Regions from separate parts of the Homo sapiens genome. Here all the other regions are linked to region 3. The links come from fine-mapping of genetic effects on gene expression. A gene starts in region 3. Each other region holds a variant in brackets. All regions are shown on one strand. Distances are from middle to middle. Region 1 has its middle 37 kb from the start of GTF3C4. Region 2 has its middle 29 kb from the start of GTF3C4. Region 3 holds the start of GTF3C4 (general transcription factor IIIC subunit 4).

Region 1 (2,758 bases), 37 kb before region 3:
GTGCGTCAGCGGCACCAGAGGAGCTCCTTCAGCCTGCAGATTTTGAGGCCCCCAGATTCTTGCCTTCCACGTGCAGACGGGCCGAGGCACCACTTTGAGAAACAGTTTCCAAGGATGAAGCTGCAAGCAAGGAGGGGCATGGAGCCGAGGGACTCGCCGGGGGTCCCAGCTGGAGTCCCTGGATTGACTCGCCGCTACCTCTTGTACTTCCCCGGGGTGTTCCAGGGGCTCTCGGAGCGCCGTATTGAAATCGATGTCCTCGGTGAGGATCCTAAGCGGGGGACCCAGGGTGGTAGATGTTACGTTTTCTCGAGAAAGAACGTCAGAGATGTTCCTAATATTGTCGAAAGCCTCCCTCTTATCCCCAGTTTCCTTCGCATGTTTTAGGAGAAAAGAGGGAAGGGAGGAAAAGGGAACAAAACCTGAAGACGGACACACAACCACCTCTGTCGTTAGCTGTGGAGGGCTGGGCTGTGGTCCTGGTGGGAACATGGCCCTTCAGCACCTGGGGAGAGGAGCTCGGAGTTCTGGGCTTTCCTCTTCCTTTAAAAGCTGTGTTGGAGGAGTCTGGTCTGTGGTGAAACTAAGCATCCCGGTTTGCCTGGGACCGAGGGAGCTCCCAGACATGGGCATTCCACTTTTCAAAGCAGGCCGGTTCTGGGAGAGCCAGGATGAGTTGGTCACACCCTGCCAGTGTGAGCGGATCCTGGAACCACAGGCCAGCTACTTTCAGGGTGGAGACATGCAGCCAAGCCTGGGGCAGGGCACCGTTGCGGTCCTCTACGTACATGGATGCTAGAGGAAGAAGAAGGGAGGAAGGAAGGAAAAGGCAGCAGATCCACAAGCCCCTGCCTTCTGCAGGCTCCCTCCAGCGCCCGCTTTTTCTTTCTTTCTTTCTTTCTTTTTTTTTTTTTTTTTTGAGACGGTGTCTCACTCTGTCCCCAGGCTGGAGTGCAGTGACGCGATCTCGGCTCACTGCAACCTCCGCCTCCCGGGTTCAATAAATTCTCCGGCCTCAGCCTCCCGAATAGCTGAGATTACAGGCACCCACCACCACACCCAAGTAATTTTTGTATTTTTAGTAGAGACGGGGTTTCATTCACCATGTTGGCCAGGCTGGTCTTGAACTCCTGACCTCGTGATCCGCCCGCCTTGGCCTCCCAAAGTGCTGGGATTAC[AG/G]GTAAGAACCACCGCACCTGGCCTGAGCACCCTCTTTTGACAAAGCTGAATATCGTGCCCACAGCCAAGAAGGATGGAGTCCAGCCAATGACAGCAGGTGGGGACTGAAGGGTGAATCTGGAGCTAAGTTAATCAATCAGTAAGCGGCTCATGTGTATTATTGATTTGTTCCTTTTTGTAGCTGAGCCACACACCGTTGTGTAGCTATTCTACATTTTGTTTCTATAGTCACCTATTGATGGATACTTGAGTTGTTTTTAGGTTTTGAGTATTGTGACTAAAACTGCTATGAATATTTGCACAATTTATTTTTGAGTATTCGTTTTGGATCCAGAAACCTTGCTAATGTCTCTTAATGCTAATAACTTATCAGTCGATTCTTTTATACTTTTTTCATACCCAATCATATTTTTTGTTTGTTTGTGACAGGGTCTCGCTCTGTCGCCCAGGCTGGAGTGCAATGGTGCCACTGTAGCTCACTGCAGCCTGAGCTCCTGGACTCAAGTGACCCTCCACCTCAGCCTCTCAAGTAGCTGGGACTACAGGTATGGACCACTATGCCTGGCTAATTTTTTTTTTTTTTTTTTTTTTTTGTGGAGATAGGATCTCCCTATGTTGCCCAGGCTACATATCATATTGACTGAGAATACGATATCTTTTTTCCAATTTTTTTTTTCTTTTTCCTAAGAGACAGGGTCTCGCTCAGTCTCCCAGGCTGGAGGGAGGTGGTGTGATCATGGTTCACTGCAGCCTCAAACTCCTGGCCTCAAGTGATGCTCCTGCCTCAGTCTCACAAAGCACTGGGATTACAGGTATGAGCCACGATGCCTGGCCCTTTTCCCCCAATCTTTATACCTTTCTCTCTCTCGCCTTATTGGAATGACCAGGACCTATAGTGCAATGTCGAGTAGAATAGATGTGTCTAGCTCCACTGGGTCTTCTGGGTAACATGGCCCAAGTGACAGGCCAGCTTGCATCCCAGCCTGGACCTGGAGTCCTCTCTTGCTACGGACCTCACACAAAGCTACCAGCCTTTTGAGTTATTCAGTAAGTGAGCCGGAGCTGGGTCCCTGGTAGAGGCTGCCAGAAGCTCTTTGCCTCTTTCTCAGTGGTAGGAAGTAAAAGGTGCAAGAACTTGTTTTTTGCCTTAAGGACAATGCCATGGCATGCCTTGGACCACTGGATCCATAAAAACTTCATTGTGATTACAGGACCCAGAATCATTGTAGTATTTTTCATCGACTTTCTGGCACACATATGCCCCACATTCAAGCAGTTGCCACTTTCCTGTTTCCCAAGTCCAGTTAGGATGCTGCCGTCGACATAACAGAGCAGCATGATGTTTTGTGGAGCGGAAAGACAAATGTCTTTGGATTATATTGTAATGAAGAGCAGACGAGTTTGGGTGGGGAAGAAATCGAGATCCAAAGGAACATACCCATTTATAAATATATGATCAACAAATGTAATTACTGATCAACAAAAAAATACCCTGAATGCCAGCAAGTGGCTAATGAGTTGTAGTGGATTTTTAGCTCTATTCAAGTGGAATCAAGAGGAGCTACAGTTGTTATACATC
Region 2 (2,758 bases), 29 kb before region 3:
TTGGTTGACTATACTAGATTTTTATATGTCGACACAACATAAAATGTAATACATGCACATGTATGTAAACACACCTAAACACATATACACATCATGTACACATACACAATCATCTTAGAGCTTTCATTTTAGAATATTAGTCATGAGCTAGAAATACAAATTTATTCCTTTATAAAAGACAGTTAGAGCTAAATCATATTTCTGACAAAATTGGGATCTGTTCACATGACTAAACTTTATTTTTCCCAATAGATAATCTAATGAAAGCTGTGGACCAAAATTTGGGGTAAAGCAGTTTTCATGGCAGTTTGAATTTTTAAAAACCTCTTTCACCTTCCTCACCCCCACTTTTCAGTTTCAAATGAGGTTAGGGGTAAATTTTCAATGTTTACATTTTAGCTAGGACTGATGGAATTGAATAAGGAAAACATCTTCAAGTAGCCTTGAACTAGTAACAAATCTTTTTTTTTGGCCAGTCTGCTTTGCTTTATTAGTAAACACAGATGGTGAAGAATTTTAGCAGTTTTCCCCCACCCAGCAGATGTTTCTTTTTGGCTTCAGCATGGCAGAAAAAGCAAAATGTTTATGTTGGACAGAGATACTGCATATAATTGCTCAGAGCTCAAGATTTTGACTCGTTTGATCCAGGAGCCTAACTTTTATAAACATTTACCTAGTTCTTTTTATTTTCAGATTATTAATTTTTCAATTAAGTGTTCCATCACTGCACATAATTGCTAGTCAGTCAAATCTAAATGTATATTTCTAAAAGGTGTCTAGGTTACAATTTGTACACCAGTACAAATTACTGATGTAATTTGTAAAGCCATTCATTTAAAAGCCCTTTAAGACTACTACTTCCAGCTGGGCACTGTGGCTCACACCTGTAATCCCAGCACTTTGGGAGGCCGAAGTGGGAAGATCACCTGAGGTCAGGAGTTCAAAACCAGCCTGGCCAACATGGTGAAGCCCCATCTCTACTAAAAATACAAAAAATTAGCTGGGCATGGTGGCGGGCACCTGTAATCCCAGCTACTTGGGAGGCTGAGGCAGGAGAATCACTTGAACCCGGGAGGCAGAGGTTGCAGTGAGCCAAGATCGCACCATTAAACTCTAGCCTGGGCAACAAAAGTGAAGCTCCATCTCAAAAAAAAAAAAAAAAAAGACCATTACTTCCTTTTTTATTTAAAAAAAATCTTGGTTGGAATGCCATAAACTGAGTTTTAAATCAATATCAGTAGCACAGTCAGCAGATTCAACGGAGGCAGGGAAAAAAAGAATTTAGAAGACTCTACATGGTACTTCGATACTTCCAGGTTTTTTGAATCATGACCATTTGAGCTCTGAATTTTCCTTGATATAATTTTGCCTATCAGTTTAAACATGTGCACAAGAATGGGCCATAATATGTAGCTGGCTGGAGTCCCAGAAAAGCTGGCATGCCTTAATGTTTGAGAATGCCATTCTATTTCTTATCAATCTCTCAAGAGCAAAGAAAATCCTGTAAATCCTGTCAGGAAATGTCAAGCATTTACACCAGTGTTTTAGATGGTGGTGACTTCCCTAGTGGGTTTTTTTTTTTTTTT[TTA/A]GACGAAGTCTTGCTCTGTTGCCAGGCTGGAATGCAGTGGCACGATCTTGGCTCACTGCAACCTCCGCTTCCCAGGTTCAAGTGATTCTCCTGCCTCAGCCTCCTGAGTAACTGGGACTACAGGCACGCACCACCACACCCAGCTAATTTTTATATTTTTAGTAGAGATGGGGTTTTACCATGTTGGCCAGGATGGTCTCGATCTCTTGACCTCGTGATCTGCATGCCTCGGCCTCCCAAAGTGCTGGGATTACAGGCGTGAGCCATCATGCCCGGCCTTCCCTAGTGGTTTTTAATTAGCTATCCCATACCCACCATTTAGAAATTTATTTTGGCTCTCAGAAGATTTTCAGAAACAAGCAAGGGAAGAGAGTCAAACCAAATCAAAAGAGACCAAGACAAGAGTGTTCATAAAAATTTTAACCCAGGCATTCAGATCAAACAAAACATTAAAATAGGTACACAGACCACACTAAAAATATATTCACCAGAAAAGACCTACCTCACAGACAGAATGTAAATTCTGCAGAATATAGAGTTGGGTACCCAAAGCTCAGTGTTCAGAGAGACACTTGTCTTTATACCAAAAAGGGCTTACCAGAAGACAAAAAGTCTTTTATCATCTGAGGAGGGAATGTATGGTCCTTTATTAAGGTGACCTTATCTAAACAAGATCCCAAATAATATTTTAAAAGCCTCTACCAAAAAGTGGGAGGCTCAGCCTGGGAAAAGACTCACCAGGGCAGAAAAGGTGAGCTGCAGAAGCAGAGAGCACAAAAGGCTCACATGAGTACTGCACACTGGTTCCCATAATCGCTGATCTGATAGTGATCTTTTTTTTGGGTCTCACTTCTGACACCATATATGTCAGCATAAATATGAGATAGGCTCTCTGAAAGAAAAATATTTGGGAATAGAGCATTGCAGTGGGGATACATGCACCATAGTAAACTAAGTGTGTTTTCAGGGAGGTAAAGGAAGACATAGATTTTTAAGGAAAAAATGAGGATTACATAATTGTTTTGAAATAATTATCCTTGGCTACAAAGGTCAATAATAAGCGTAATGCACGTCTGAGGTTGGACAGGCAGTTGCTGGGCAGATATCTTTGAATAAGTATTTTTTTGTATAACGTTGCAATGGAGTTTGTGCAAGGTTGTGGTTTCTGTT
Region 3 (2,724 bases):
GAATGTATGAATATACACTGACAGTTCACATGTAAGCGTACACCTCTATCAAGGATATATGGAAAGTTTTTACACCTCTAAGCAACTAAAAGGAACGCTATGGCTTACTACTTGACCTTGCGCTTGAAGTTTAAGATAGGTAGTTGTTTCGAATCTTTATTTTCATTCAACATCCCAAAGATGTTTAGCTAGTAAAGAAAAACTAAAGTACAAACCCCGAGATCCAGTATTTACCCGTTTGCCCAAGGAGAGGCGAGGACCATTCATAATAAAGTCACTGAAACAATTAAGACAATGGATGGGACCAGTTTTTCTTTTCTGAAGCTAAAGAGGCGCGAGAGGAGGACACACACAGTAGACAAAGCCAGCCAAGAACCTCGGAAAGTCGGCCCCAAACAATAGCAGCAACGACAGAGGCAGGCCCCGGGTTGGATCTACAGGGGGTGGAGTCTCAGAAAGCACCATCGAGTAACCCGCTCCATGTGCGGGCCCGACGGAGGGGCGAAGGAGGGGTTCCTGGGACTCAACTCCGGGAAGCCCCCTGGGTGTGTACCTGTGTTTGCGGCGGCGGGTGACCTGGGGAAACAGGGTGCAGACAGCTGCAGAGCTTTTCTTTTTTTTTTTTTAAGCTGTGGTAACCCTGGCTGCTTAATAAATCCCCAGCGCTCGGTGCGAAGAGGGAAATCCCCGGACAGAGTGTGGGATCGGATTCCCCTGGGACGGATGATGCGGCCGCGAGAGGGGGACAGGGGAAGACCCCAGGGATGGCGGGGGATGACTTACTTTGAGGAGACAGCTGTTGAGCGGTGCGGGCACCGAGGTGCGGTGGATAACCAGGTCCTGGCCCGGGTTGTGCACGTCGCAGATGAGCTCCAGCACAGCGATGCTGCGGGCCGTGGACACAGACACGCGGTGGTCCTCGGACCAAGCCAGCGGTTCCAGGCCGCTCACCGCATACTGCAGCTTCACGGCCGGCTCCCGCCGAGTCACCATGAGGCGGAATGCAGCGCTGGGCCCCGGGGCCGCGTCCGCTGCTGGCTCCTTCCCGCCCGCCTCGCCGCCCCCCTCTCCCTCCTCCTCCCCAGACGGCGCAGGCCCGTCGTCCGCGGGCCCCACCCGGGCCTGGTCGGCCGTGTTCATCTTCTCTCAGGTGCAGAGGTCGGACGCCCTGGCGCTCCACGCAGTCGCGCGACCACCTCCCGGACCGCCGCCGCCACCCCCAGCGCCCTCCGCGGCGGTTTTCTCCCCTCAGGCCCCGAGCGCCGCCGAGCCAAGAAGGACCCCGCCGTTGCCAGGCAACGCGGCCCTACCAGGTGGCCAAGGAACTGCCTGTCCAGAAAAAGGACAGCGAGCGGGGAGCCCCGAGGACCCCCTTTTCCCTGCCCAGGGATTGAGCTCCAGAGCCTGTTAGGGAGCTACCCAGACAGGCTTTAGTTCCTAAAGTGCTGAGGAAACGCACGGGGCGGTAAAGGGGAGGCTCGTCGGTGAGATGGCGCCGGATCTCGCTTCTCAGAGGCATTCAGAGAGCTTCCCCAGCGTGAACTCTCGGCCGAATGTAATTTTGCCAGGCCGCGAGGGACGCAGAGAGGGGCTGCCACCAGGCGGGGGCACGCGCGGTAGTCTTGTCCCTACCCGCCCGGTGCCGCCGTCCCCGGCTCCCCTCGGGACGAGTCCGTACAGCTGGAGCCGTTCCGGACCCGGAAGGGGCGGTGGCGCAGGGTCCTCGCGCGTCCCACGTGGGGTCCCGGGCCCAGCAGTCTGCGCACCGGGCTCGCTGCTGCACCACGCGTCACCCACGCAGACCATGGCAGCCGCCGACGGTTCGCTCTTCGACAACCCCAGGACGTTCTCCAGACGTCCCCCAGCCCAGGCGAGTCGGGTGAGTTCTGACCCGGCTTCAGCTCCGTCCCCACCCGCGGCCCGGCTGTGGGCGCGCCGCGAGCTGCAGCCGTGCCTTGGAGTCGGGTTTCGAGTCATTCACGGAGTTAAGCGGGAGAAAGACACCGGGCAGCTTCGGGACAAGTTGCGCCGAAACACGTGTCTCTAACCGGAACACCACCCGCAGGGATGCGCCTGGAAGCGGGGAGTGGAGCGGTGTGGAGGGGCGGGGAGCTGGCTCCTGCGCCTAGAAAAGTAAAGGAAGGAATTAGAGGCTGTTTCCCGTGGAAGGTAGGACCTGAAGTTCCGGCGCAAGTCCCAGGCCAAAGCTTAACTTCTCTAAGCCAGTTTCCTCGACTGAGTGCGGACTAAGCTCTGATTTTTTTTTTTATCTTGCCCACATTCCTGTCTGGGAAGAGTCATGCCCTACAAACCATAAATTCTCATCAGATGGCTTTCATTTAACCCTATATATCGTGACTTACTTTCCAAACTGGCTCTGGCCTAACATTATGTGACAAAGAAGAAAGTTAAAATATTACCCCTAAACATGTTTCTTTGCCACATTTTGAAATGGCTTTGCAAAGCTGTTCTTTGGGGGGGGCGGGCGGGGTGGACATTTGCATCTGCAAAGAATCTCTATTAACATAGCTAGATCTTTTTCTTCCAGGCCCTCCCAATCCTAAAGAGATTAAGAGTCTACCACCTTTCAAAGATCTGAATAGGAAACACTTGTCTGTTGTCTCTAAGGGCAGCCACTAAAGACTTGAAAAGAACCTTGGTCTCCACAATCTTTTATCTTAACCTGAGCATTTTCTTTGTATCCATCCCAGGTGTTTAGACAAA

The links. PIP is the estimated chance that this variant, and not a neighbour inherited with it, causes the effect. A credible set is the group of variants that fine-mapping cannot tell apart.
Region 1: its variant is the best candidate, but not a certain one, in a credible set for the expression of GTF3C4 in whole blood (TOPMed, PIP 0.75).
Region 2: its variant is the best candidate, but not a certain one, in a credible set for the expression of GTF3C4 in whole blood (INTERVAL, PIP 0.87).

What each region holds. Positions count from the first base shown.
Region 1 is chr9:132,706,232-132,708,989 of GRCh38, reverse strand. No RefSeq gene overlaps it. Among named protein-coding and RNA genes, the nearest start is that of GTF3C4, 37 kb to the right of the region's middle. The variant AG/G (reference allele first, on the strand shown) is at 1,179.
Region 2 is chr9:132,697,910-132,700,667 of GRCh38, reverse strand. No RefSeq gene overlaps it. Among named protein-coding and RNA genes, the nearest start is that of GTF3C4, 29 kb to the right of the region's middle. The variant TTA/A (reference allele first, on the strand shown) is at 1,587.
Region 3 is chr9:132,669,015-132,671,738 of GRCh38, reverse strand. It overlaps GTF3C4 (general transcription factor IIIC subunit 4), which reads right to left and starts at 1,275. Exons shown (of 5, transcript NM_012204.4): 1 at 784-1,275. The coding sequence starts at 1,140. DDX31 (DEAD-box helicase 31) reads left to right here and starts at 1,756. Exons shown (of 20, transcript NM_022779.9): 1 at 1,756-1,879. The coding sequence starts at 1,805. RefSeq lists silencers at 987-1,116, 1,537-1,686 and enhancers at 1,267-1,346, 1,032-1,899.